Homo sapiens: one gene and its partners. The protein of the gene in region 4 interacts with the protein of the main gene of each other region in a pairwise test. Each region holds a gene or a part of one and is shown on either strand. Other genes may lie near its edges. The genes, in order: SYTL4, DTNB, CIB4 and ZBTB9.

Region 1 (6,155 bases), on a different chromosome or scaffold from region 4:
CAAGAGCCTTATTTCTGAGCTGGGTTACTTGGCACCTGTGTTATTTCTCTCTCAAAACTACATAATGGTAGGAGGAGTAAAAGAAAAAGTCCCCGCCTCCCAGAGAAATTGAAGGATCCAGAAAGAAGTGCTTATAGCAGGGAATGTCTCCCCTCACCTCCTGTATGAACATCTCTCTCCTTCCTCCAGTATAGGAGGGTCTGCAAAGCTAAAGGAAGAGTTCCTTTGTTACAAGATAGAAAAGTGGTGCCACTTTAAAGATGATTTCTCAGTGTTCTCCTTAGATACCAAATACAAAGGACGAGGGATCAAGCTCAGCGAAAGTATCAGGCATTTAAGGTATCAGGCAGCAATGCGGGGAAAGGTGAATTTTCTTCAATCAGCATAGGATGGTTAGGGAAGAGCATTTATCACTTTGGTTCTTATCCTTCAAGCCAGGGGAAAAGCAACAGTGAGGACATCAGAGACAAAAGCATTTATAGAACTAACAAACACAAACGTTTGACAAGTGAGAAAGCTTTATTAAAGCACACATACATGTCAGGGGGGTGGGAAACAAAAGAGCAAGTTACAGCCCGGGATCCCAAGTTATGCCTTCCATTACAATTGCAATCCACACCAAATCAATCTTTGAAAACATTCCTCCATTCGGTTCATACATACAGTAGAAACCACTGTGGCTGCCCTTAATCCAGTGTGCTTATAGGAAATCAGTTAGCAGCTGACTCTGTTGAAAGGGATTTCCTCTCTGCTATACACTCCTTCCACACACAACTTTGGGTAGAAACGCTTATGAGAATAGAAAGGTCAGTTTGATCAATGAGTACCAGAAGATGAAACTTAGCTCACTAGACCCTTCTTTGAAAAGCCTCAACACACTACACCCATGTAATATGTAGGTCAAATTTAGGAAACAATAGCAAAAACAGGAACTGAAAGCTCATCAAGCAGGAAGTCAGAATAACAGGGAGACTCTGTCTACATTCCCTTAGAGCCCTTAACAGTCCCCAGCCTGGAGAAACACTGGGCCAATTGAGATAACACTTGGCTCTTCTGGTTGACACAGTGGGATGTAGACCATGCTCTGTTTGATAACACACCCCAGACGCAAACACTAAGACAGATGTGGTACATGAGGATGAATATATCTCATCTTTCATTCGAGAAATGAGGAGCTCTCTCTCCAATGACTGCAGTATCAGTTTAAAATGCAGAAAATTCAGCATGGGCTGTGAGACACTTTACCCTCAGTCACTCTGGTCCTCTGAGATCAGCTAGAAGCTCTCACTGGGCATCCTCGTGATTTAGTCAAAATACATTATCTAATTAAAGTGCTTTTCAAAAGCAGCTCCATTATAAGAGTCCCCCAAAGGTCTAGTAAAGATATCTAGAACTGGAAAAAGCTTGGGAATTCTGTTAGCATTTCAAAGAAAAGCATTAGACCAAAGCAAGGTGGAAACTGCTTAAAAACTAGAAAAGTTAAATTTAAAAGCCAAGTTCCAGAAGTTTATCCAGGTAGAAAATAAGTTAAAAGCATAAATTGGAGAGGAGAAAGAGGAAGGAACTACTCACCTCTCCCCAACATTCCTGTCTTTACTAACCAACCCTGCTTCCCAGAGCCTTAAAACCCAGACTGGTCCTAATGCGAAAGGTAGCCAGGGCTTCCTAGGGAAGTAGGAACAATGATAGCAAGACAGAAGATAAAAAGTTGTTTTAAAAGCTGTTTTTAAGTTAAGTGAACCTTATAAAGACATAAGAAAAAATGGACTCTGAAAATAAACTAGATTATACACAGAAACATTTTAAAGAAATGCTTATTCTTGAGACTGCTTTAAAAAGAAGAACAAGTCTGCATCACTCTAGCCAGCATAATGAGATTTGCAGAAAATACATGTTTGTACACATACACACACACACACACACACACACATACACACATACACACATACACATTAAATTATAAATCTTTGCTCTTGATTTCTTCACTTCCTCTGACCTGCCCTCGCCAGGGCTGGACCTGCAGAAGAGGACAGGGACTCATAAACCCAGCTTCTGCTTGGCCATTGAGGAACGGAGCTGCAGAGTCCCTTCTGCCCAAGACCCTGGGTACTGTCGCATCTTCTGCCACAGGCTCACTTCTTCCCCAGTCGAGTCCATCCAGTCCACCACTTCCCCATTACTGATCCCTGAGGAGAAACACCAGAAGAGGCTAAAGAGGGGCCCCACTCTCAGCCCACCAGGGAAGATGGGTTGTACAGCAAGATTAGCCACCCCATAACAGTTTCCTACGAAGATGGGCTAATGGCCACAGCAGTCTGGGAAGTGCTCCCTCACCTGTATTCCTGAGACTCTGTCAAGAGACTCTGGGTTGATGAAATCAGACTCCAAATGGCACACAGTCACTAGAGACTTCTTATTCTGAGGCTGTTACAGAGTTCTAGTGCCTGACAACTCATGCCAGAGCTATTGCCAACTGTACTTAAACATTTTTCTTTTATTATTATTATTAATTTGAGACGGAGCCTCGCTCTGTCGCCAGGCTGGAGTGCAGTGGCACAATCTTGGCTCACTGCAACTTCTGCTTCCTGGGTTCAAGCGATTCTCCCGCCTCAGCCTCCAGAGTACCTGGGACTACAGGCCTGCGCCACCACGCCCAGCTAATTTTTTTGTATTTTTAGTAGAGACGGGGTTTCACCATGTTGGCTAGGATGGTCTCGATCTCTTGACCTCGTGATCTGCCTGCCTCAGCCTCCCAAAGTGCTGGGATTACAGGTGTGAGCCACCGTGCCCGGCCAACTTTTTTCTTTTAAAGCTAAACACCTCTCCTCTAGCTGCAGACTCCAGGTCAGAAGTGAGGATCGTATGTGGCCCCATTCATATTCTCTTATATATTCATCCATTAATTCAGCAAACATTTATTGAGTGCCTACTGTGTGCCAGGTACTCTTCTAGGCTCTAGAGACACTAGTAAACAAAGCAGAAAAAGTCTCTGTCCTCAGGCAACTTTCATTTGAATAGGGAAGACAGAAAATATACAAGCAAACCAATAAGAGTATTTCAGACAGTGAGGTTAACATTATGATGTAAATAAACAGGGTGATGTATAGTGACTGACTCAGGAACTACTGTGCAGATGGAGTGGTCTGAGGACTCTCTGAGAAGGTGACATTTGAGCCAAGACCTGAAGGATAAGAAAGAACCAGACTTTCCATTCAGAGAAAACAATAATTGCAAAGGTTCTGAAGTGGGAATGAGCTTGGTATATTTGGAGAGCAGAAAGTCATTTTGGTTGAAGCATAGTGAGCAAGGGGAAGAGTGATACAAGACGGATCAGAAAGGAACAGAGGACCCAGGTTACACAGGGGCCTGTAGGCATGTTAAGAACTTTGGATTGTTTTCTAAGCACAACAGAAAGCCACTGAGGGGTTTTAACAGGGGACTGACATGAATTGGCTTACATGTGTAAAAACATCAGTCTATATGCTTCATGTTAAATATTCTGTGTGATTATTAATATATAAGTATATTAATAGACAAGTGCAGAGACTAGGGAGAGGGCAAAGAAGAGGATCCGAGACTAAGCTCTGCCAAGCACCAACATTTAGAGTTTGGGTATAGAATGCAGCACCTACAAAGAAAACTGAGAAGGGGTGAGCAGTGACTTAAAAGGGAATCAGAATGCAGTGTCAATAGAAGTTCAGCGTTTCAAGCGAAAAGGAGTGATCTAGCATGTTAAATAGTGCTGAAAATTCTAGTGAGATGAGAACAACACTTTGGCAAGAGCAACTGCTCAGCAGAGTGGTGGGACAAAAGCCAGATCACAGTGAAGGAGAGCTGAAGGAGAGGTGAGAAGTGGAGACAATTCTTTCTAAGAAACTAGAAGGGGAACGTGTAGTCAAGGAAAGGTTTGTTTTTGTTTCATAAGATTGGAAATACCAGAGCATATCTGTATTCACCCCTGGTAGGTAGGGAGGATGAAACTGAGAGATGACGATTATAGAAGTGAGGTCATCGAGAAGGGTAGGGGGAGGTGGCCCAGAGCACTTGGAGAGAGCTTGGCTTTTGCTAGCAATGACCCTTCTTTCATTATTAACAGCATGGAAGATGGAATGTATAGGTACATACATATAGGTAGGTTTGTAGATTTTTTTGGTGGGAAGATTATGAAGTTCCTGGCAATCAGGGTCACATTTATCTGTGCACATATCAGTGCATGAGCTCAGCCTTCCCCTAGTCCTGGCACATAGTAGGCACTCAATAAGTATTGGCTGAATGTTAACTGAAAGGAAAGAAGACAACTGTCATCACAGAGGAGCTTTGTGTTGGGGGGCGGGAATGGTAATAGGAGTAAAATAGACAAGAAGCCTTCAAACAAGTGAGGATGGGGGAGGGGATCTCACCAGTGCCAACACCCAGCCTGACCCCTCCCAGGAAGTCATTGCTGGCCAGGGGCTCCCGGTCCCACACAGTCAGTTCCAGGCACATATGCTGTAGATCTTCCAGCCTCACACCATTGTAGACAAATGTATGGTTGTAGTGAGGATTCAGGGTCTTCTTCATCACAGGAGTTTTACGTTTACTGGCCTTGTTCCTCATGGGAAGGAGGTATCTGGCAGAGGGCGGGGAGTAATCAACAGCCTACTCAAAGCGGACAGTTATCTCTCTAAATTCCCCTTTCCCCTACCACAGGCCTAGCCCAAGAAGATGAACCCACATCCAGATCCTACTACACACGCCCCTCCTTGAATCTGCTGAAGCAGAGTTCCCACTACCTCTACTAGATCATTCACCTGATTCAATTCCTTTAACCTAGAGAGAAAATGAATATAATAGTATTAGTGAGGCTATTCTGTGCTCCACTGAAAATGGGTTTTAAATATTTGGCTTTGTTTCTACTAGACAATTTATCTCTTTAAATAAAACCAATAGTAATATCTATAAACTTAGCCAAACATGATTTCTAGATAAATTAAGTCAGTAGGTAATCTGTAATTTTCGGAAAGCTTAAAAACTGTGGGAAACAAAGCCCTGAGTTCCCAAATCTAGACAGTCAGAAGACACAGATTTTCACCCAGAATTAATTAAGAACATGAGTCAGACAAAAGTCAGAACCTGTCTGCAGCCCTCCTCTTTGGATTATCAAGTCTACAGCCCAGACCAGTGCAAAGGTGGTGAAGGTTTTGTCATTACCTAATTTCAGGAACAAATTTGGTTGCCGGGAGTGGTAAGACACACTGGATAATATCCACAGAGAAAGTTAAATTCTTCTCTTAGCTCTCTTGTTCTGAAACTGGTTAATTTGGGGCTGGTCTAGGGACTCACCCCTTGACAAAGCTGTCTGAAGTCCCTCCTGCTTTGGCAGCCGTCAAGTTCTTGGCTTCTTTGATCCACACCTGGAGCTCTCCCCCTTCCCCACCTTTACCTGTAAGGGATGTCAGCCATAGCAAGTGAGCCCCTTCCACCTCTAGATTTATCTTGAGCTTTGTTTATGCAGCACTTTCTTTGCTTGCTCCTAAAGGCAGCGAGCTCCATAACAGAACCGTGCCTGTCCTGTCTCCTCAGTGCCTAGCACAGTGCCTGCCAGTAAGCAATAGGTGCTGTATTAATAACAACCACAATATTAATAAATGCCTATTGAAAACTGGCTATGTGCCAGATACCATGTTAAGCATTTAATTCTCAAAACAACCCTAGGAGAGTCACACTATTTTTGTCCTCATTTTGTACATGAGAAAATTGAGGCTTAGAGACATAAAGTTGCCTGATATTTGTTCAATGATTTAAAAAAGAGGGAACTCCTCCATCTGAGTTCTCGATTCCACCCCTACTTCACAGGACTCTTCAGACATCATCAATTTCAATCCTCACCTCCCAATTTAAATATCTCTTTCTCCACTTGTCCCTTCCCCTCAGTCTAAATATATACTAATCTCATCTCTTTGAAAAAGTACTTCTAAAAGAAAAGCTCCCTTTAACCTTATCTCTTCTTCAAGCTATTCTCCATGTCTCTACTTTCTTTCACCATCAATTATCCTGAGGAAAAAAAGTCCACACTTACCACCTCTACTTCTTTGCCCATTCACTCAGCCTAGTTTCTAGTGAAATCTGGTTTCTGCTTTCACTGATCCACTGAAAATGCAATCTAATGCCAATTG
Region 2 (6,859 bases), on a different chromosome or scaffold from region 4:
AACACAAAAGATGACCCTTTGACTGGAGAAGTTTATGATCTAGTTAATAAAGCAAGACCAGGCCAGGTGCGGTGGCTCACGCCTGTAATCCCAGCACTTTGGGAGGCTGAGGCGGGTGGATCACAAGGTCAGGAGTTCAAGACCAGCAGGCTGGCCAACATAGTGAAACCTCATCTCTACTAAAAATACAAAAAATTAGCCAGGTGTGGTGGCAGGCGCCTGTAGTCCCAGCTACTTGGGGAGAATGAGGCAGGAGAATCACTTGAACCTGGGAGGCAGAGATTGCAGTGAGCCGAGATCACACCACTGCACTCCGTCCTGGGCAACAAGAGTGAAACTCCATCTCCAAAAAAAAAAAAAAAAAAGACCAAAAATGCAAAATAAATAGATCAAATGAAGTGGCAGAAAAAGCTAATCATAAAACTTTCAGCATATAAGTATAATAAGGGTTTCTGAAAAGGAAGAGATTGTTGTGGACTAGAATAGCCAAATGGTTTTGTGGCTTCATGGAAGAATAAAACCAAGAAGGGAAGGTGTCAGCAAAGGACAGTAGTGCCTTCCTAGTTTCATTATATATCGAACCTGCTTAACACATGACATCTGGGAAGAGCTGCAGGGAATGATTTTCACGTATGATGATCTCATCTAATCCTTAACACTGTGAGACAGATTCGAATATCCCCATTTTACCCATGAGGAAATAGGCTCAGAGAGATGTTGTTCATGTAGCTGTTAAACGGCAGAGATTTAGGCCAGACGTGGTGGCTCACACCTGTAATCCCAGCACTTTGGAAGGCCGAGGCGGGCGGATCACTTGAGGCCAGGAATTCGAGAGCAGCCTGGCCAACATGGTGAAACCCTGTCTCTACTAAAAATACAAAAATAAGCCAGGTGTGGTGGTGCATGCCTGTAATCGCAGCTACTCGGGAGGCTGAAGCAGGAGAATCCCTTGAACTCAGGAGGCAGAGGTTGCAGTGAGCCAAGATCACGCAACTGCACTCCAGCCTGGGCAACAAAGAGAGACTCTGTCTCAAAAAAAAAAAAAAAAAAAAAAAAAAAGGCAGAGAACTGGGTCTTTCTGACTCCAAACTTCGTGCTCTTAATCTTCATCCTTCTATGTTATACTGAACAGAAAACAAAATTTTCTTTGGACATTTGAGGGTGAGCTGTTCTTTCTGTTGTGCATTAATGTGTTAGTTGCTGGATTCCTCCTAAACATCAGCTCCTCAAGGCAGAGATTTTAGTCTGTTTTGTTCATGTTGTGTTCCAGTGCCTGGTGCTTAGTAGGAGGTCAATAAATGAACAAATCAAAGGAAATAAATGGGGTGATGAGATAGAGAGTACCTTATCGGGGAGAGAAATGCAATGGCTGGTCACCCCAAGGAGGTGAAGGTAGGGAGAGCAGGAAGCATGAGGAGGAGCCAGCAGCAGCCCTCCCAGGGAGGAATTCTGAACAAGGCTCGGGGGAGTGAAAGAACCTGCCAGCTGATAAATGGCACAGCCTGAGTTCAACTCCAATGCCCATGGTTTAGTCTGAGCTGAACTGGTAGACTAAGGGAAGTGGAGTGGTCTTACTTAAGGAAGGGTAGAAGCCAAGTGGGAGATACAGGTAAGGAAGCTGTGACAAGAAAGGGAAACCTACAGGACAGTGGGTCTGGAGCATTCTTGGCCCATAGGGGCTGGAGTGGCTAAGACAGGGTCGTCTTTGGAGTCTCACGGGGCAAGGAATTTGTCAGCAAGGACCCTGAAATTGCTGAGGAAGAAACTGGGAGAAGAGGAAGAAGATTCTGCAGATTCTGAAATCGTCTAGTGAGTCTGAGCTAGGCCTGGGAGGAAGTGGACAGCAGCGCCAACGAGTTGATGAGAATGACATATGTGGCACGGACACCAAAAGGTCAGACTAGGCTGGGCATGGTGGCTTACACCTGTAATCCCAGCACTTTAGGAGGCTGAGGCAGGGGGATCACTTGATGCCAGGAGTTTGAGACCAGCATAGGCAACATAGCAAGACCCCATCTCTACAAAAAATAAATTAGCCGGATGTGGTAGTGCACACCTGTAGTCCCAGCTGCTTTGGAGGCAGAGGCAGGAGGACTGCTTGAGCCCAGGAGTTTAAGGCTGCAGTGAGCTATAGTCACGCCACTGCATTCCAGCCTGGATAACAGAGCAAAGCCCTATCTAAAAAATAAAAATAAAAGGTCACATTAGAGAGCAGTAGTGTTTCAGACATCCAGGAATGCTTCATAGAAATGTAGAAACAATTGACTTACCCACACAGACAAGAAAGAAGGCAGGAGGGCAAAAGGTGAAGAGATACACAGATAAATTTACACTGGTGTAAACACATGCTGCAAACACGCGCACACACACGCACACGCACATGCACATGCACATGCCAACCAAATCCTAGCATTCATGTGGAATGTTCCTGGCTGAAGACATAACAGCTGCATCTCTGGCCTCCCTTCACCTGCCCCTCCCTTCCCCAGTAGCTTTTTCCCATGGCCTCTCCTCAGTCCTTTTCACTCCACCAAAGCAAACCTAGGACTGCCCCAGCCACTGAGGCCTTGCCCTGGCCACGAACTCTAGCCCTTATCCTGGTTCGAGTCTGAGTGTGGGCCATGCCTCACATGGGAATCAGACTGGGTTTCCCTTGCCCAGCCCTCCAGGCCCCAGGGTGCTGTCTCTGCACCTGCACTCCCCTGTCCACATCAAACTGGGTTTCCCTTGCCCGGGCCTCCAGGTCCCAAGGTGCTGTCTTTGCACCTGCACTCCACTGTCCACATCAGACTGGGTTTCCCTCGCCCGGGCCTCCAGGCCCCAGGGCACTGTCTCTGCACGTGCACTGCCCTGTTCGCATCAGACTGGGTTTCCCTTTCCCGGCACTCCAGGCCCCAGGGCACTGTCTTTACACCTGCACTGCCCTGTCTGCATCTCTTCTGTCTTTCTGTGCCTCTTGCCCTTAGAGCTCCTTGTCTGTCTTTCAGTGCATATACCAGAATGTCTGTATGTCTATGTGAAATCTTTTTGTGGGAATGCCTGAATTTTTACGTATGTGACTTTCTGGTGTCATCCCTAAGGCCAAGAGTGTTAAGAGTTGGGGTGAGAGATGGTAGAGTTTTTTATGTTTGGCTCTCCACATTATATAGGTTCTAGGATATGTCCCTGAAACTACAACGTAGCTCATACATGGGCATTTTTATAAGACTAAGTGTTTTTATGGGTGGACCTCCTGATTCTCTGCCATGAGCTAGGCCTGAGATTTTACAGACCTAGGACTAACTGCAGTCACCTGGACACCAGAGATCTGTAACTGTCAACCGTAAAGAGAGAGAGTATATTTGCTTCTTTGGGGTTGAAACCATACTGACGTAATATAAACAGAATTTGGTCAGCACCATCAGGCAAACATAGTCTGCTCGATAAGGAAACTGTGAGAGTCAAATGGAACTTTTGAAGAATCTAGACCAAGCTGAACTTCCCTGCCATATTCACCCCTGCCTCACGCCTCTCCCTGTTCACCCCTGGCTGGCTGGCTGCATCCTGGGGAATGCTTCTGCTCCATCGGGGTACCCTTCCTCCTCTGCATCTCCTCAAGAGAAGTGTAACCAAGACACATAGAAGAAGCACAGACTAACACACCTTCCCCCATAGTACATCATCTCCACCCTCCACAGCCTCATGTTATGCTCCTGTGTCCTTCACAGTCTCCCCTCCCATACCCTGCCATCCCGGTGTGGGGGCTGTAAATCCAGTTTGCATCCATAAAGAGCCCTGGTGCAAGGCTGGACAGCAATGGCCCTCAGAGAACAGAACAGGCTCAGGAGGGGCCAGGCAGTGCTCGAGCCTCGGGTGAGCAAGCGCAGGGCTTTTCAAAGCAGACCATCTGCAGGAGGGGGACCGCCCTCACTCAAGGCGCAGTCATGTTCCCTTGGGGAACTTTCAGAGCTGAGTGGGCTTTGCCCCCCTCATGTAACTGCTCCCTGGATTTAAGGAGTTTTGATTCCATTTTTTAATGACTTTCCTTCTCCTGAGAAGCATCTGTCTCCATGGCTGCCTCGGGTTGGCTACAGTAGTAGAAAGTATGACTCTACCCTGCTGTCATACCTGGGTGGGAAAAGTCAACAAACGAGTAACGGGAGAAGCAAGGAAGCCCCTGGGGTGGGTTGGTCAGGGAAGCCCCTTTGAGATAGTCTGGGGCATGAGAAGACCTGGCCGTGACCTCAGTGTGTTGTTTCTGCCCATGCTGCCACAGGTTAGCAGAGGAGCCGGACACAGAGGAAGCTCAGGTGAGTACAAAGAGTCCTCTGCCTCCCCACGGCCCCTCCCTCCTTCCTCAGCATCTTCCCTTCCCCTCCCTTCCTGCAGTCACAGGTCCCTAGCCAGGGCAGTCCTAACAGGTGAAGATGCAAGAGCCCAACTGTCCCTTCCCTTTGCCCACCCCAGCCATGTGCCCTCCTTGCCCTGTTTCTAGGCTGTGTCCTGTCTTGCACAGCACTGTCTGCAGGCCTGGTCCTTGGGCATGGCCTGGTGTCCTCTGTGTTGGGATGGCATTGGCAGACCCGACACTGCTGGCTGAAACAGGGTGTGCTGAGCAAGGCCACCTCCCTGGGGAGCACTGCCTCCCATGCTCCTTTCCCACAGCCACTGCCCACTTCCTTCCTGGGATCCAAACCACAGCCAGTGCGTCCCTGGATTCTGTCACCCAGCACTGCACCGAATCACAGTCCCTGACCCACAGACATGTGATTCATGCAGGATCACACTGACTACAGGGCTGACCAAGCCGCTTCCCATGGTGCCCGGCCAAGCTGCACCTTCTCACTTCCTGAAGAAGCAATGCAGAAAAGTACGGACTGCTCCAGTGGCAGATGCTCATTGCCTTTAGGAATTAGTCATTCCCATTTTCCAGCTCAACACCTTAATTCTTTCTAGTCCCAGCACCAAGATATCAGACTTCTCCATTTTAAAATCTTGTCTTCCCTCCCCTCCTCCCACCCCCCCACCTCTTATATTTAAAAATTAGGCATCTTCCTCGAATAAAGAAGTCAGGGCCCTAGCTGCACAATCCAGAAAAGGGGTTTTTTCAGACCCTCCCAAGTCGTGTCATCCTGGAATAGCCTCTGGCCCTCTCTGCCCAACCGCGCCAGGCCATTGAAGGCCTCTGCCCGCTCCCCCGGGGCCCCTGCAGCCTCGGCCTGCGCTGACTCTGGATTGTGCGAGCTGAGGAGAGGGCAGCACCTGGGCCACGCACATTCTCTCGCTGCCCTGGAAATCACAGCGCCCCAGGGGCTTGGAGAGAGGCTTCTCCCTAAACTCACTGTGCACATTCAGGCAAGGCCCTTTCCCAAGCAAGCCTAGGCCGTGGCAGCCGAGGAGGGAAATCAGGAACTGACTCGCCCTGCAGGAGCCTGCCAGAGCCCCTCTCTCCCCGGGGCAGAAGGAACTGGGGTGCAAGGGAACGTGGCAGAGCCATGTGCCCCCACCGCCTTGTTGCACATGGAGGAAACCAATGCCCCACACCAGAAGCTCCATGCCAGAAGCAGAATTGGAGCCGGGTCTTCTGCCTCCTAATCCTGCGCTCTCTGACCCACATCAGGGGTGATGAGAAACACCAACAGCCGAGAGTTAAACTAAGAGTATAAAACTTGGGTGCCGCGGATTCATGGATGCCCAGGCCTGCGCTCTGCTGGCCGGGGGCTGAGGCTTCCTCCCTTTCCTCTTAGTATTCATCGGCACACCTCAGTCCTCCCTGCCCTTCTCCTGGGCCACAATTCTCCCCAAGAAATCACCCCATTCAAACCTTGCATTGTGAACCCAATTCTTTCTTCCACGGAAACACTTCCTGACCCTTAGGAATGATGGCAGAGGACCCTAGGTACCACCCTTCAGCCCAACGCTTGAAAGGCGCCCAGCATCCTAGCAGCCCCTCCCTGCAGGGCCTCCTGTTCACAGTAGATGTTAGCAGCTTTTGTCCTGAACCCTCAACAGTGCCCGTGACTAACGGTGAGTGTGTCTTGCGCAGGCACAGAGGACGAGGAGCAAGCTGGCGCCGACATGGCGAAGGCAAGGTCTTCCCCCAGAGGCACATTCCTCTCCATCTTTCCACCGCACACCTGGACCAGGCTTGCAGGCTGCCAGACGTCACTCCACCCGCCAGGGAGAGGGGAGCCAGAGCCGGTGGGAAGCGGGGAGGGGCTGCGTGGCACAGCTAGTGGGCCTCCCCCTGCACAGCCCTGCATGTACTAGCACCTTCATCACTCCCCTCAGGGCATGGTCTCATCTCCGCATCAGGAATTCACCTGGAGGTTGAAAAGAGAAAAGAAAAAGCACCAAGCTCTTGTGTGTTTGTGACCTGATGAAACACTTCCTGGCGTCTGGCCAGCACGTGGGGTGCTCCTGAACGTGGGGGCACAAGTTTCCTTATCTTTGACCTTTAAAAACCAACAGGTTTCTTCCAGCGTGCAAAGAAAGCGTCAGGCCTTGCTCGGCTCTGTAGACATTCACACCCTGGCCACGGTGCTAAAAATAGTCTCACACTGGTTAGGCTTCCGCCCGCCCCGTGTGATGCCGCCGCCTGCAGCCCGGGAGGGAGGGGCGGAGACCCAGCCGCGCGCCGCAGCCGGGCTGAGCCTCCTCGGAGAGGGCGGGAGGGTCTCTGCGCCGCGGACTCCGTGGCCGCCAGGGGGCGCGCCGCCGGGGGCGCTGCTCGCAGCCTCTCGCCTTAGGGGTCGATTGGGCTCGGGCACACGTGATCAAGTCCCGTTCCCGGTGATTTTCATTTATTTTTTCCTCCTCCCTGGGCTCCAGGATGTTATTTTTAGCAGAAGAACTGCTATAAATATTTATAAAGGGCAGT
Region 3 (7,695 bases), on a different chromosome or scaffold from region 4:
ATAAGCATGGCTCGCTTCCAAGGAACTCTTTCTCCGAAGGCCAAGGCAGAACAAATGAAAATGGAGGATCGATGTTCGAGAGAGAGCCTGAACCCTTCCCATACTCCTCTCACTCCTCTCGTCCACCACCCCATGCTCTCTCCTGGCATATAGGAGGAACCCCAGGGGTGGATCCATGAATGCCATTTGAAGCCCCTGGGTTAGAAAGAGGGGCAGGCATGGCCATGCCCCCTTGCTGAGAGTACAAACTGGTGCAACTCCTTTGAAGGACAACATTGTCTCACCCATCGAAGTTCTAAAATGTAGGCCGGGTGCAGTGGCTCACCCCTGTAATCCCAGCACTTTGGGATGCCAAGGTGGGAGGATCACTGGAGGTCAGGAGTTTGAGAACAGCCTGGCCAACATGGTGAAACCCTATCTCTACAGAAATACAAAAATTTGCCGGGCGTGGTGGCAGGCACCTGTAGTCCCAGCTACTCAGGAGGCTGAGGCAAGAGAATTATTTAAACCAGGGAGGCACAGGTTGCAGTGAGCCAAGATTGCACCACTGCACTCTAGCCTGGGAGACAGAGCAAGACTCTGTCTCAAAAAAAACCCCAAAAGCTTAAAAAAAAAAAAGGTACAGAACAGTATGAAGGGATAAATGCAACCATGTGAATGGGGTAAAAGGAGGATAAATGTGTTGGCTTATGTATGGAAAATTCTTCCAGAAGGCTAGATGGTAAGACAAACCAACAGTGAGCAGAGGCGGCCTTGAGGGAAAAGGACTGGGAGGAGAGAATGGAGACATTTTCTTTTCACTTAGAACTTTTACACTATTTGAATTTTCTTTTTTTTTTTTTAAATTATATTTTAAGTTCTGGGATACATGTGCAGAACATGCAGGTTTGTTACATAGGTATACACATGTCATGGTGGTTTGCTGCACCCATCAACCTGTCATCTACATTAGATATTTCTCTTCATGCTATCCCTCCCCTAGACCCCCACCCCCCAACAGGCCCCAGTGTGTGATGTTCCCCTCCCTGTGTCCATGTGTTCTCATTGTTCAACTCCCACTTATGACTGAGAACCATTATTTGAATTTTGAATTTTCTAGCCAGGTAGCATTTTTTTTTAGATTTCATTTTATTTTTATTCATGTGATACTTTTCAGAAAATTTCAATAGAGGTTATATGGGTAGTAGGATATGGGTCATTTGGAGTTATGTCATATTTTTCTATATTTAAAAAAGTGAGTGAATATTATTTTCAAAAGGGAAACAATGTCACTGGGTGACAGCCCCTGGTTAGCTCCCCGTGCCCTGGCCATCCCCCATCCTCATTTGTGCCTGGAGAGTCTTGCACTTGTGACAAAGTTGTTACCTGCCACCACCAGACCCTGAGTGGGAAATGTGGCTTCCGTGTGGTGACTGGGGAGGGTTAGTCCAAGCAAAGATGATGAGAGGGAACCTTCCCCCACCTTCCCCTGAAAGTGTCTTGGTGAGCTCCTTTATTCATCTAACAGGTTTTGTTGGGCACCTGGCTTGGCCCAAACACACAAACACACACACACCTCTCACACTATTCACTCTCCCCCACAGCCCCACGAGAAGGGTATTTGGCCACCTCCACGTTGAATGAAGTTTCTTCCCCACTGGACAGCGGTCCGCATGACAACAGGGAGCGGGGCTGCTCACCACCCCACCCTCAGGGCCTCCACGAGGCCAGCACATCACAGGCACCGGAGAAAGGGCAGGGAGGGAGGGAGGGAGGGAGGGAGGTGGAGAGGGAAGTCTGGGCTTCAGTCATGCATCCAAGTTTACCCAGCCAGTGGACAGCCAAAATGGGCTTCAGACATAAGTTCCCCAAGTCCTTTCCTTGTTCTCCTCATTATTCCAAAGAGGTTCTGTCCAGCTCCATGATCCTCTGAAGAAACCTCACTTTGGATCCCAGTAAAAGGTTAGCAGCCTAAAGCCTGGTGTCTCATTCAGCTCCAGTGGGGCTCTGCGGATCGTGGCCCCTGGGCCCTCCCATCCCTGCCTGCCGTGTCCCAGCCCCATCTCCAGGGCTGTGTGGCTCTGAGCAGGGACCACACTCAGGGACCAGCGTGAGGCTGTATTAGGGCAAGAATCCAGCTCAGAGGGAGGAGCTGGGAGAAGGAAAGAGGGGCGGGGCTTCTACTCACCACAGAATTTCATTTCTGGTCAGGAAGGTCAGGGCCTGCAACAAATCACAGAGAAGCGACGTGTCCACTCCATTCATCCCTGCTGTGGCCCCTGGGGAGTGGCGCAATTCAGAGGCTGGGGAGGAAATGCCCATTCTTTTGCTGCACAGCTGGGGGAACCCCAGGTTGAGGTGGATGCCTGAGGTGGCAGCAGGAGAGGAAATGGTGCTCTTTCTTACCCCCTAGTCTCTTACAGCCCTGGGAAGGAGGGCATTGGCACAGATGTGGAGAGCAGATCAGAGACAAGAGTGAAACTCTGGGCTCTGGTGCAGGAGACAGATGGAGGAAGGTAACCTTAGAGATCTCATCTGGGCCACATGGATGCAGATTTAGCAAAGAGAGGGACCACCGCTACCCCGCCTGGTAAACTCTAGAGCAAGCTTGTCCAACCCACGGCCTGCAGGCCACATGCAGCCCAGGACAGCTTTGAATGGGGTCCCAACACATATTTGTAAACTTTCTTAAAACATTATCAGATTTTTTCGTGATTTTTTTTTATTAGCTCATCAGCAAGCATTAGTGTTAGTGTATTTTATGTGTGGCCCAAGACAATTCTTCTTCCAATGTGGCCCAGGGAAGCCAAAAATTGGACACCCCTGCTAGAGCGTCAGGAAGGAATTTTCCCATTCATTCCACCTGCTTTAGGAAGCTCCCACCTCTGCCCAGAGTCCCTAGCCCGATCTACCCACCTGGTACTCTTCCAGGTCCTCCCAGTGCATCTGATACCTCAAGCATTGCCCCATGCCAACCACACCTTTCTGTCTGCCAGCAGTAGAACCTCAGCCTCAAGGACTCGCCAGCTGAGGCACCTCGTTGATCCAGTTGCCATGGTGACCTACATTCCACCTTCTGCCCATTCCACCTGAGTTACTGAGTTGGCAAAGAAACAAATTCTTTTCATTCCCATTCCACCTGAGTTGCTGAGTTAGCAAAGAAGCAAATTATTTTCAATCCCAAAGCTAAGAGGCATCAGTCCCATACAACAAGCAGAAAGGCAGTCCAAAGATGGGGCTGAGAGTCACACTGTCAGCTCAGGAGTCACAGTGCCTGGGCTCCAATCCCAGATCCACCCCATTGTAACCTGGGACAAGCTCTTCAATATCTGTGTGTCTTAGTTTCCTCATCTGTAAGTGGGGATGATAATCATGGGATTGTTGTGAGGATTGACGAATACAGGGAATAATGTCAGGCACATAGTAAGTGCTCAATAAATGCTAGCTATTTGAACCACAACCTAGCTGGGCATGGTGGCTCACGCCTCTAATCCCAATACTTTGGGAGGCCAAGTCTGGTGGATCACTTGAGGTGAGGCGTTTGCTACCAGCCTGGCCAACATGCAGAAACCCTGTCTCTACCAAAAAATACAAAAATTAGCTGGCATGGTGGCATGACCTGTAGTCCCAGTGACTCCAGAGGCTACGATGGGAGAATCGCTTGAACCTGGGAGGTAGAGGTTGCAGAGAGCCAAGATCGCACCACTGCACTCCAGCCTAGGACCCTGTCTCAAAAAAACAAAAAAACCCTACAACCTGCTGGGTGCAGAGGTGCACACCAGCACACCTGTAGTCCCAGCTACTCAGGAGGCTGAGGCAGGAGGATCGTTTGAGCCCAGGAGTTCATGGCTGCAGTGAGCGATGATCATACCACTGCACTTCAGCCTGGGTGACAGAGCAAGACCTTGTCTCTAACAAATCAAAATAAAAAATAAACAAGGAACCACAACCCCAGGACTATGCCAGGCATGGGGATGCCGAAATATATCAGCATAGATCCAACCTCAGGGAGTGGCCCAAAAAGTACAGAAAAGGGCGTTCCACCCCATCAGTCAGGGTCTCTGCAGGAACAAAGGGCACCATCAAATCAGGATCATGTGAAAAGGGTCTAAAAAAAGGACTCTCCACAAAGATGTGTTCAGGGTGTAGGGAAGTCACATGGATAACTGGATAACACAGACTCCTGAGCCCAACAACAAAGAGCTGCTACCCGACCCAGCACCACCCACCTGGAAGCACCACCCCAGCCCCACTCTCTCCTCTTTCTGTGATCTCCTACAGGGAAGAGAACAGGGCGGAGCAGGATGGGCAGACAGAGACAACGTCCAGCACAGGCATCAACATCACAGGCCAGGAGGGCCTTCCAGAAGCCATCACTCCCTCCCCTGCCTCCAGGAGGGTCTGCACACCCACCTTTGTCATGAAAGGCTGGTCTCCTTGTTCTAGAACACATCTTCCCTATGCTCTCCTGAGTAAACATCCCAGTGATTCTCTGATGACGCTTATTTATATCTCTGAAGTGCAACTGCCTGCTTTTTCTTTGACTGTCCTCCATGGGGATAGAGCCTGGCAGAAGGAAACCCGGGGCCCTCATTCCTTCATCTGCTCACCAGACACAGGTAGAATATCCACAGTGTGCCAGGGACTTGGCTTGACCCTGGGAGAGAGAGGACTGAACATGACTTCAACCCTCAAGGAACGTATGCTCTTCATGCTCTTTTAAGGGAGTAAGAAAAAAAAAAAAAAAAAAGAAATGTGTGCTCACCACACACACACACATACACACACACACATATATACACACACTAAAGCAGATGGAGGCAGATGTCACAGACGGGGAAGAGTACAGAGTTACGAGTGTTTAGAAGAGGAAAGGCTTGCTGGGCACCAAGCTTTCATGTAGGTGGTGGCATTTAAGTTGCTGTTATCATGCGGTGGTTAAGAACATGGGCTCTGAAATCTGAAAGGCCTGGCAGCATCTCTTCTTACTGCATCACCTCAAGCAAGTCATAAAATACTGTAAGCCTCAGTTTCCTCATCTGTAAAAGGGGAATGATAAATCCCTACTTCATAAGTATTGCAGGCATAAAATAAAATGATGGGTGTATGTGAAGCTCTTATTTAGCAAGATACCTGCTATGTATTGAGTTCTCAATAAAGGGTAAATTACCAGCCTGGCTAACATGGCGAAATCCCATCTCTACTAAAAATACAAAAATTAGCCAGGTGTGGTGGCGTGTGTCTGTAGTCCCAGCTACTGGGGAGGTTGAGGTATGAGAATCGCTTGAACCCAGGAGGTGGAGGTTGCAGTGAGCCAAGATCGTGCCTCTGTACTCCAGCCTGGGTGACAGAGTGAGACCCTGTTTCAAAACAAACAAAAATAAGGGTAAATTATATTACTACTTTTAAAAGTTGGGCCTGGGCCGGGCATGGTGGCTCATGCCTGTAATCCCAGCACTTTTGGAGGCCGAGGCAGGCAGATCACCTGAGGTCAAGAGTTCGAGACCAGACTGATCAATATGATGAAGCCCCATCTCTACTAAAAATACAAAAATTAGCCGGGCATGATGGCATGCACCTGTAATCCCAGCTACTCAGGAGGCTGAGACAGGAGAATCTCTTGAACCCAGGAGGCAGAGGATGCAGTGAGCCAAGATCTTGCCATTGCACTCCAGCCTGGGCAACAAGAGTGAAATTCCACCTCAAAAAAAAAAAAAAAGAGTTAGGCCTGGAAGGAAGGGTAGGACTTTTGCAGGCTAAGCCAGTGGTCAAACCCCATCTTCTGCTAACCCCTTTGAGCTTCTACCATCGTTGATTAAGCAGCTTCTATCTGCCAGGTGTGTGCATGTAAACTGTCTACATTCAGGCTCAAGCAGCTCATTGAGGGCAGTAGGGTGTCCTTGCTTCTTTGCTCTAGGGAAGGCGGAGGCTGGTGAGGTGAAGTGACGCTCTTGGGTCAGTCAGCTGATAAGTGGACAAGATGTGGGTCTGTGGATTCCCAAAGCATGGGGCAGGAAACTTGGGGAAGCCAGATGATCTGCAGGATCACACCCAGAAAGCCACTTCCTTCTCCAGCCTCAGTGCTCCTCATCACATCGAGGTGCAAGTGGCAGCTTGGCACTGGCTGGTTGTGACTTTGACACCTGGCTGACACTTGCCAAAAAGAAAACAAAAACAAAAGAGAGAGCTGCCCTGGAGCCCAGAGCTTTAAGCTACTGACTCAACCACTATTCATTGAGCGAGGTAGTGCAGACAGAGGTGAATGAGACAGATGATGTCCTGCCCTCACAGATCCAGACGCGCATATGTGCACCCACATCCCTTAGACAGCCATACGTGCTGCGGAAGAAGGAAAGCAGGGAGCGGGGGAGAGAGGGTGTGACGATGGAGGTGCTGGTGGTCATGGAAGCACCGGAGCAGAGACCTGAGTGACGGGGACGAGTGAACCAGGCTAAGAAATCAGGGCCAGTTGCACAGACCCAGATGACCACGGGATCCAGCGAGAATTTAATAACACTGGTTTTCATTATATTTGTTTATATAAAGGTATCTTCCATATTGAAAATGATGCAGGTTTGCCATTTATTACTGTGATCTAAAGTTTCCTCTATAAACATATCTGTTTAATTAAAAGAAATAGGAACCTATTCAAAAATATTAAGTAAATAATTATACAGGTGGTAAAGAAATATGCCAGAAATCATGAATCTCTCTCTCTGTGTCTCTTTTTCTCTCTCTCAGTCTCTCTCTCTCTCTCACTCACACACAGACCCCAAGGTTTGCAAACTCTGCTACCCTTCTCTCTCCTTGATCTTTCATCCCCCTAACTCCCCAACCCCTGCCTTCCCTGCACCCCCGCAGGCTCTGTCATTTCATCACAGAGAGGGTTTTCATTGGTTCCTACAATAACAATACTAACAATAAGAATATCACTTTACATTTGCATATTCCTTTATAATTTCAAAATGCTTTTTTATGTACCATCTCATTTGTCCCAGAAATAAAAGCTAGTGTTCTTTAAAAAAGAGAGAGAAATCCTCCCTCCATATGATTCTGCCTTTGATACACTAACCAACCTGCCTCTCTATCCATCTCCAGCCCATTACATCCCTTAAACTCCTCTTCAGCAGAGATTTTGAAAGGGGTATAATTGAGGAGGGAGGAGGTTCTGGGGAAGGGCAGTTCTACATCCTTCTCCTCCAGGATCCACCTCTGCAGGAACCCTCTGTGTGGAACAGAATGTATTCTTTGCAAGGTTTCTGTCACCTTGCAACTTACAGTTTTACAGACCGGTAAAACTACAACCCCGGCTCCGACCCTGATTTAGGTGTCTCTTAGAATTCGAGAAGAGTTGAAAAGAAACTTGCATTCAGAATATATAAAAAATTCTCACAATTCAACAATAAAAGGCCAAATAAGCCAACTTAAAAATGGGCAAAAGATTTGAATAGACATGTAAGAAGATACATAAATGGCCAATGAGCATATAAAAAGAAGCTCAACATCAGTAGCCATCAGGGAGACGCAGATCAAAAGCACAGTGAGATACCTCTTCACACCCACCAGCATGGTCAAAATCAAAAGAACAAGTAATAAGCGCCGGGCGTGGCAGCTTATGTCTGTAATCCCAGTACTTTGGGAGGCTGAGACGGGCGGGTCTCTTGAGCCCAGGAGTTCAAAACCAGCCTGGGCAACATAGTGAAACCCTGTCTCTAC
Region 4 (7,592 bases):
ACACAAATTACTCAATCCAGTCCACTGTCAGTTTAGGTTTCAGGGCACAGTTTATTAAAAAATTTTAAGTAACTGCAAGTCCCACCCCCGATTCCAGTATCTGTCCCCTCCATATCTCAACAGAGGGGCTGTCTATCATATGTGGGTGGGATGGGAAAGGAAGAGGTATGGTCCTACTATGCAAGTTACTCTCCAGCCTTCAGCTTGTGCTGTCCCAAACCTGAGTCCCTCTGACCAAGGTAAGTTGTTCAGAGAGCAGTGGTGCCACCCTGACAGCACTTTAGGACAGTGCCATCTCCTGAGATCACTAGTCACATTCCAGTCATTGTGACCAATATATTAGTTATCAGTGGTGGTCAAAGGTAGACCAGAGGCACAGGCTGTTGAGGGAAGACCCTCTATTAAAGAAGGTTCTAAGAATGAAACATGGAATGCTCAACTTGTTAAAGTGCTCAGCTACAACATTAAAAAAGTGTCGGGAAGGTGTCTATTGGTGAGAAAGCAAGGTACAATCTGAGGGGCTCCTGGAAAGATACAATTTTAAAAGTACACAAAAGGACTTCTGCTTAAATCATTCCAGCAATGAGAGAAAAAAGCTTAGAGCTTAGCCTCTGAATTACTTAAGCTGTAAATCAAATGTATCTCTAGGTGGAGACCAACTCCTTCAATTCCTCATGGAGACGGAATAAAACATTTACCACTGTCTTTTGCTCTAACTCTTCTCTCACTAAATAATTGAAAATCTGGTTTCCTTAATGGACATCACCACCACAAAAATGTCCACCATGGGCAAGTGATCAACTTAAGTATGAATGGCCTATAAACCACTTTCCTGCAGGGTTGGCTAGCCAAAACCTGGAGTGGGACGAGAAATTTGAGTTTCCACATCTGCCAGGCTGAGAGGCCCATATCTAAGAACAAGAGGTCCATAATGTATCTATTCTCTTGGCATGATTACAAGATCCATGACTGGTGTGCCATGGCAGTGAGGGAAAAGTATCCATCAGCAGCAGTGGTTATCTTGTTCTAGAAGCTAGTGTATAGCCTCAGCAGTCACTTGTAAGTCCAGTGGGCAGTGGCCCAGCCCTGGCCCTTGCATAGGTCCCGGTGGCGGAGAAAACAGGCATGGACTCGGAACCGACGGCCACAGTGGGGACAGGCATGCAGGGCTCCAGCATGGGTCTTCATGTGCTCTGTCAGATGGTGCTTCAGCTTGAAGCGCTTGTTGCAGATGCCACAGCCAAAAGGCCGAAGGCTGAAGGTCAGCATGATGTGCCGGTCACGCTTTGGCTTCACTGCAAACCGCTTCCCACACAGGCAACCAAAGCGTTTTCCATCTGCAGGGGGTGTCCCCCCTAGCTTCACAGGCCCATGCACGGCCTGGCCTGCTCCCCCAGGTCCTCCACCCCCTGACAGGATTTCATTCCCATGAAGATCCACTGGTTTCCAGGATGGACCCCCTCCCCCAGATGTTGGCCCTGGCCCTGAAGGCAACAAGAACCCTAGCTCCCCATTCCCTTCAGTGTCCCCTCCAGAAAACACTTTGGTTTCCTCCTTTGCTCCTCCAGGCTGAGTTCCGCTTCCTGATATCTCCTCCTTAGGCTCGAAGGGTTCCTGCTTAATGTAGAAGATTTTGGGGGGCAGTGCAGGAGGGGCAGGAAGCTCAAGTGGTGCACTCTCACCCTCTGGAAGCTTTCGGGGAGTAGCAGTCATGGGCAGTGGGTGGGGTCCATGAGGACGGGGAAAAACCCCTGATACTCTCTGGGGCTGAGGAGTCTGAGAGAGTGTGGCTGACCCCTGGTCCTCATCATCATCATCTTCCTCCTCCTCCTCTTCTTCTTCCACCTGAATTTGCAGCACTTCTCCCAGTTCACTTCCCTCCCCTCCCACAGGGCTCTCAGTGGAAGCAGGGCTTTCAGTAGAAGCAGAGGACTGTACTGGGGTCTGGAAAGGCGAAGAGCGAATGCACCAGCCTCCTGTAGAGGATGTAGTGGAAAGAAGGGCATGGTAGGAGTTTCCTCCACGGGCTGAAATTCCACCACCTGAAGTTTCTAATTCTCTAAGAATTTCTGAGCACTGATCTACTACCTGCCACATTTGAAGGCCACTGGCCACAAGGAGATGAGCAGGAAGAGCATCCAGTGGCAGGCGGAGACGCCCTGAATAAATGAGCTGGAGCAGCCCCTCGAAGGCATCGGCTTCAATGACACTCGGTAGAGTGAGACGAGGCGCATCCCCCAGAAGCAGCTTGTCATGGAAGTAAGGAGAGGCAGCAGCTAACACTGCTTTATGAGCCCTAAGTTCCCGGCCCTGCACCAGGAGGGACACATCACAGAACTTTCCCTCTAGCCTGTGGCGGTTCAGAGATTCCAGCAGAGACGAGCTATGCTGTGGGAACTCGATCTGGATTGTCCGTGGGGCTGGGTTGCAGGTCGGGGAGGCGGGTACAGGCGGCAAAGGTGTTGGGGTTTCCATGGCCTCCTCGAAGGTGACAAGAATTGGGAAGAGGAGAAGGGCTTGGGGGTAGACTCCACGCGGGATGAAGGCTGCAGAGGAAAAAGATGGAGGTCACAGAAGCCCTGGATAAAGGGAGCCACATCTTCTCAAACAACCCCCTCCCCACGAGCAATAACTGGAAACTTTTAAGTCAGTGGCGGTTTCTGCAAATCAGTCCCGCACACCAAGAAAGCAAAAACAAACAACAACAACAACCACCACCACTAAACACCAACAGGGGTTTTAACTTCCAGCCCCTGTGGAAGATAAGAAGGAGGTCCTTCAGCCACCAGCCTGCCTTCACCTGCCCAGAACAGCTCCTGCCCCGCCGCTCCGTTCCGCCTCACAGTGCCCACAGAGGTCTGCTCCCGGGAAGCCGCGGTCACCCGGACACCGCGAGTCCCGGCCCGATTGTCCTTCCCGCCGACACGCCCCCGCCGTTACACACGCGGCGCTGCCCTCGCAGTTACAGTGCCGCTACAGCTCCGTCCCAGACCGGAAGCCGCCGCCTCCCCGCCGGACACCGTCGCCAAGTGCGGCGGGCGGAGCTAGAGCCGTAGCCAATCGAGGAACGGCAGCCTACAAGCCTCGTGTTGATTGGCTACTGCAGACGAGGAGGGCGGTGCTAGTAGGAGGGCACAGGCCCAGGGTGTCCTCGCAACGGGCGTCCCGGGGAGCTGCTGAAGTCCTCCCCGCTGCAGAGGACCGAGAGGCAGGGCCCGGGAGAGAACAGCCCGGTCGGAGGGGGTGGGCCGTCAGCCGCCCCGGAAAGCTGCGTTTCCCGGTGATTAAGTGTAGCACCCGCCCCCGGTAGGTCCTGAGAGGGGCGAGATTAGTTGGGTACTTACCATGTGGGCCTGGCACTTGCCCACATCACTTTGTGTCTTCCCACCGGCCCTGCGAGGGTGGGGGTTGCCGTCCTCAGTTTCCAGGCGGGGGAAACGGGCTGGAAGCGTCACTCAGCTAATAGTAGTGGACCTGGGACTGGAACTCAGATTTGCTAAGGAACCAGGCAGGTTCTTTCCTGTTTTCTGCACGGGAGCATTTTAACCAGCAATTAAAGAAACCTTATTTCTAGGTAATTTTTAAAAGAGATAAATGTGGATATATACATGAACTCTTTTATCAGATAACGCCGCTGTTCCTGGCCTCGGACTAAGTGACACAGTGGTGAGGGGAGAGTTAGATTGGAGAAGTTTGGCCGGTGCAAAACTCCTGCTCTAAAATATAAAAAATCTCATTGGGAGGGGAGAGTGACATTCTATGAGGAGAGTGTGGCATCAGGTGGGGATATACGGTTTTCCTCTCAGGCTGTCAGCTTCCTTTCAGAAAGCAGATCTTACCACCGTACAGGTCTGGAGAGCCCTGCCTAAGAAAGTCGGCACAGCGATAAAAGAACAATCTCCGTTTATTAAACATGTTTTTTTCTGTTTCACCACACACTCCAGAAAAAAAGGAAATGGGGCTGGGAGTGGAGAAAAGGGGACAGTGAGGGGGGATAGATAAGGCTGGGAGTGGGGTGGGGAGGGAGAACGAGAAAACAAAATAAAACAGGTAGGAAGAGCAACTCCCTACCCTTGAGGTGGTGGGTGGGGAGGGAAGCAGAGGGGCGGGGGGGGAGGGGGCCAGGAAGCTCTGTACAGAAGGGTTGCCCCCAGCCCACACACACACACCCCGGATATGTACAGTACAAACCCCAGATAATTACAACAGCCAAAGAAGAGAGAAGGAAGGTTGGGGAGGGTCCAGGGGTAGGGCCTGAGGTGGGGAAAGGGCACAGGGATAAAATTTCACATATTTACAACTTTTATATAAGTATAAATTTGGCCCCGGCTGGGTGTATGTGTAGGGGGATGGGACTGAAGGGGAACTGTCCATACAAAAGAAAGAGGAGTAGAGTCTAGGAGAGTCTCAATACCAAACGCAAAAGGATGAAGGGGGCAAGGCTGGGTAGGGGACAGCAGTCAGGGAAGAGGGGGTGCCAAGGAGGGGCTTCTCCCCTCCCATGGCCTACCCACCCCAAACCCCATCCATCCTACCTCCCCTATCCCGCCAGAAAACTATGTACAGAGAAACACCGAAAAATCGTGGAGCTGGCGGGAGGGAGGGAGGTGGAAGGAGATTGGGAGGGGGAGGATGAGAGGGAAGCCCAGCCCTGTCCTACCTCCCCCAGGGGACAGAGTCATGGAAGGGGGCCCCCCAACACCCCTCCTCCAACACAGGTCCCCCCACCCTGGGGGAGAGAGACATGGCTTTTCCTAGAGTAAGTTCCCCCCTCCCCCTGGGAGTAGAGACCAAGAAGAGAGAAGGAAGGGGCAGAGGGGACTGTGTGTCAGAGTAGGACAGATCAACTAGCCTGTCCTCCCAACATACACACCCTCCTAAACCCTGACCCCTCACCCTAACCTCAATTCCACCCCACCCAACACACTGGGGGAGGGGGGGGCATAAGCCCCCTCACCCCGCTCTGGGACCAGCCGAGAGCAGATCAGGTGTGGGGAGAAGGGGAGACAACTCCCATTCCCCCCTTGCCGCCCCCTCCCTGCCCCGGTGGCCCCCTCCACCCCATCTGGGTTCTGGGTGGGGAGGGAGTAAATTTAAGAGTGGTAGAAGGAGAAGGAGTTTGTGCGTGCTGAGCCCCCCCAGACGCTCCTGAGAAATCAAGGGGTAATAGGGCCCCCTCACCCGGGGTCCCCTCCCCATAACAAGGGGGGCAGGGGAGGCCAAAATGGGGCGGTGGAGGGGAGTTAGATTGTCAGCTCTGGTTACTGCTAAAAAAATCACCCTGAAGTTGAAAGTTTGGAGGTGCCACACCCCCAGGGTGGGGGTGAGGGTCTGTCCCCCAGTGCTCAGGGGAACGATGAGGCAGAGGATGGGGATAGCACCCCGGAGTGAAGGGGTCTGTACGGGGTAGGCGGTGTCCTGGGGCAAGGGTCCCTGGGGGTCAAAGAGAGGGCAGCACCCCAATGGGAAGGAAAAGGGGGCGGCTGAGGGTCCCCACTCTCCCTCCTGGAAATGGTGCAGTGGTGGGGGTGGGCAATCAGTGTGCCTCCCAGGGAGGCATTCGGGGAGGCAATCCCGCTGTTCCTCGGTGATGTCCAATCCTGGTGGTTGGTGCTGTTACAGGGTGGGGTGCACAGGAAAGGAAGAGAAGGTCTCTGATGCTGGGTGGGCTAGTGGTCTGCGGTGTTTCGGAACTCGCCGTTCTCCGTAATCTGCAGCCGGGGTGGGGGTGGTGGGGCTGGGGGGGCCAGGCCATTCCACGGTGGGGCCAGCGTCACACGCGGGTTTGTTGGACCCAAGGGGGGAAGCTGCCTCTCCTGCAAGACACCAAAAAGGAGAGCGCGGACTTATTGAGACGCTTCAAGGGGGCCTGGATGCCAGTCCCCTAGCAGTGGCCTCCCCTATAGCCAGCCCACACCACAAGCCATGGACCACCCCCTCCTCCCAGGACAGTCCCCACCATCCTCCTATTTTGTTTCTCACCTGCAGTAGAAGTTAACGTCCTCTGGGATCAGAGAGAAGAGAATCTCACCCCTAGACTCCTAACAGGGGCCTTCAAGCCTTTAACCCAGAGTGTCACACCAGGAAACCAGATCAAAACAGCAAGTTCCCACCGCACCCCCAACCTAACCCTTCTCTGGCTTCACCTGTGTATATTCCTTGCCCATCCCACCCTCCTCCTCTTGAAACCCCCTCCCACCCATCCCCAATCCGAGGTGGGAACTTCATGTTGAGGAATAAGGGGAGGCAGTACAGCAAAACCTCATTAATCCAAACCCCTGTGGATTTGGAATTTCTTCATAATCTGAAGAAAAACTGAGCTTGCATTTTCCTTTATCTGTGAAGAAAAGGTGTACTAAGCAAATTAGTGGTGGAAATATGTCTGTAGGAGGGGATATTTAACCCATACCAGAAAACAGACTTTTGAATCCTATCTATTCATTAATGCATGCTCCCTGAGGAGTGGAAAAAGCCTTGTTCATCGAGTTCTGTATATATTTTGAAGACATGCATTTCATTAAATAGACACTGTCATTCCGTTTGTCACTTATTCACAGTGGCCATCTTCTCAAATATAACATTCCAAATTAGAGAGAGGTTTAACTGTACTGGGGGGAAAGGAAGGGGATTCAGGGAAGTGATATGGGAAGGGAAAAATCTTGTGGGAGGGCTGCCCCTCTCTCTCACAATTATGGCGGAAATGACTAGGAGCTTCTGCAGACACAGCATGCCCCAATCTCTGCATCCCTGGGAAGCAGAAACTGGCTTTATTCTTTTCCACTCCCATCTTCTTTTCAGTCCTTCTCCCTGGGCTCCCAATTAGAGGGTGAGGGGTACCAGACCAGCTCCTACCCCTGGTTCTACTCTCATCACCTCCTATAGCTCCTTGACCAACTCCTGGTTCCTGCCCTTAGCTCCGCCTTCTGTTCCTCTGCTGGGAGAAAAGAAAGCCATCTGAATTTCCCTACGCTTCTGGTTGGGAAATTCACTTCCTTCTCTCTTTGGCTGTTGTAATTATCTGGGGTTTGTACTGTACATGTCCGTGTGTGTGTGTGTGGGCTGGGGGCAACACTTGGCTTTTTAAAATTCAGGCTCAAAACTAATTTCTAATTAATGGCTGAGTTGCAGAGAGACCAATACCTACCACAAGTGGTTTAGAACAAATGTCCAAATTATTTCCTGGGCCACATGGCATTTAGGCTTGGTAATATAGCTATGTCTGACCTTAGGATACAAAACCTTCCAAGTAAAAGCTTCTATATAAGCTCTCCCTTCCATCCTAGGATCAAGGAGCTAACCTCTCAGATCACCCAAACCCCAGCCTTGGGTATGAGATACCCAGCAAAACTGCCTTCTTAGCTTGCTGGGTATCTCACACATTTTCTGCAAGTCAGTGAGAGGAAATCACTTATGGTAGGGTATCCTGAGTATGGCGGGAGAGCAGGGAAGGAACCCCCAGATTCCATTCCCTCTGTTTGTCTGCTGGTGACAGCACATAAGCATGCCCTGGACACCCCCATGGACCCAAATTTAGAAAGTGGATAAATTAGGGTGCCATTATTCATTTTACAAAAGAATTCACTGCAGGAGTC

The links.
Region 1: the proteins of ZBTB9 (region 4) and SYTL4 interact in binary tests that used the Homo sapiens proteins (3 or more experiments, as listed by UniProt).
Region 2: the proteins of ZBTB9 (region 4) and DTNB interact in binary tests that used the Homo sapiens proteins (3 or more experiments, as listed by UniProt).
Region 3: the proteins of ZBTB9 (region 4) and CIB4 interact in binary tests that used the Homo sapiens proteins (3 or more experiments, as listed by UniProt).

Annotation. Positions count from the first base shown.
Region 1 is NC_000023.11:100,673,991-100,680,145, forward strand, and holds the end of SYTL4 (synaptotagmin-like protein 4), read right to left. Parts: intron 5,423-6,155; coding exon 5,323-5,422; intron 4,610-5,322; coding exon 4,401-4,609; intron 4,280-4,400; coding exon of another isoform or gene 4,126-4,279; intron 2,187-4,125; coding exon 2,038-2,186; 3' UTR 501-2,037; downstream 1-500. UniProt on the Homo sapiens protein: Modulates exocytosis of dense-core granules and secretion of hormones in the pancreas and the pituitary. Interacts with vesicles containing negatively charged phospholipids in a Ca(2+)-independent manner.
Region 2 is NC_000002.12:25,376,720-25,383,578, reverse strand, and holds the end of DTNB (dystrobrevin beta), read left to right. Parts: intron 1-4,255; coding exon 4,256-4,260; coding exon of another isoform or gene 4,261-4,289; intron 4,290-6,025; coding exon of another isoform or gene 6,026-6,249; 3' UTR 6,250-6,336; downstream 6,337-6,859.
Region 3 is NC_000002.12:26,638,366-26,646,060, forward strand, and holds the start of CIB4 (calcium and integrin-binding family member 4), read right to left. Parts: upstream 3,002-7,695; 5' UTR 2,950-3,001; coding exon 2,896-2,949; intron 2,259-2,895; coding exon of another isoform or gene 2,203-2,258; coding exon 2,168-2,202; intron 275-2,167; exon of another isoform or gene 1-274.
Region 4 is NC_000006.12:33,449,984-33,457,575, reverse strand, and holds ZBTB9 (zinc finger and BTB domain-containing protein 9), read right to left. Parts: upstream 3,001-7,592; 5' UTR 2,801-3,000; intron 2,547-2,800; 5' UTR 2,476-2,546; coding exon 1,054-2,475; 3' UTR 32-1,053; downstream 1-31. Other genes in the region: SYNGAP1 (ras/Rap GTPase-activating protein SynGAP), read right to left, coding at 5,670-5,816. UniProt on the Homo sapiens protein: May be involved in transcriptional regulation.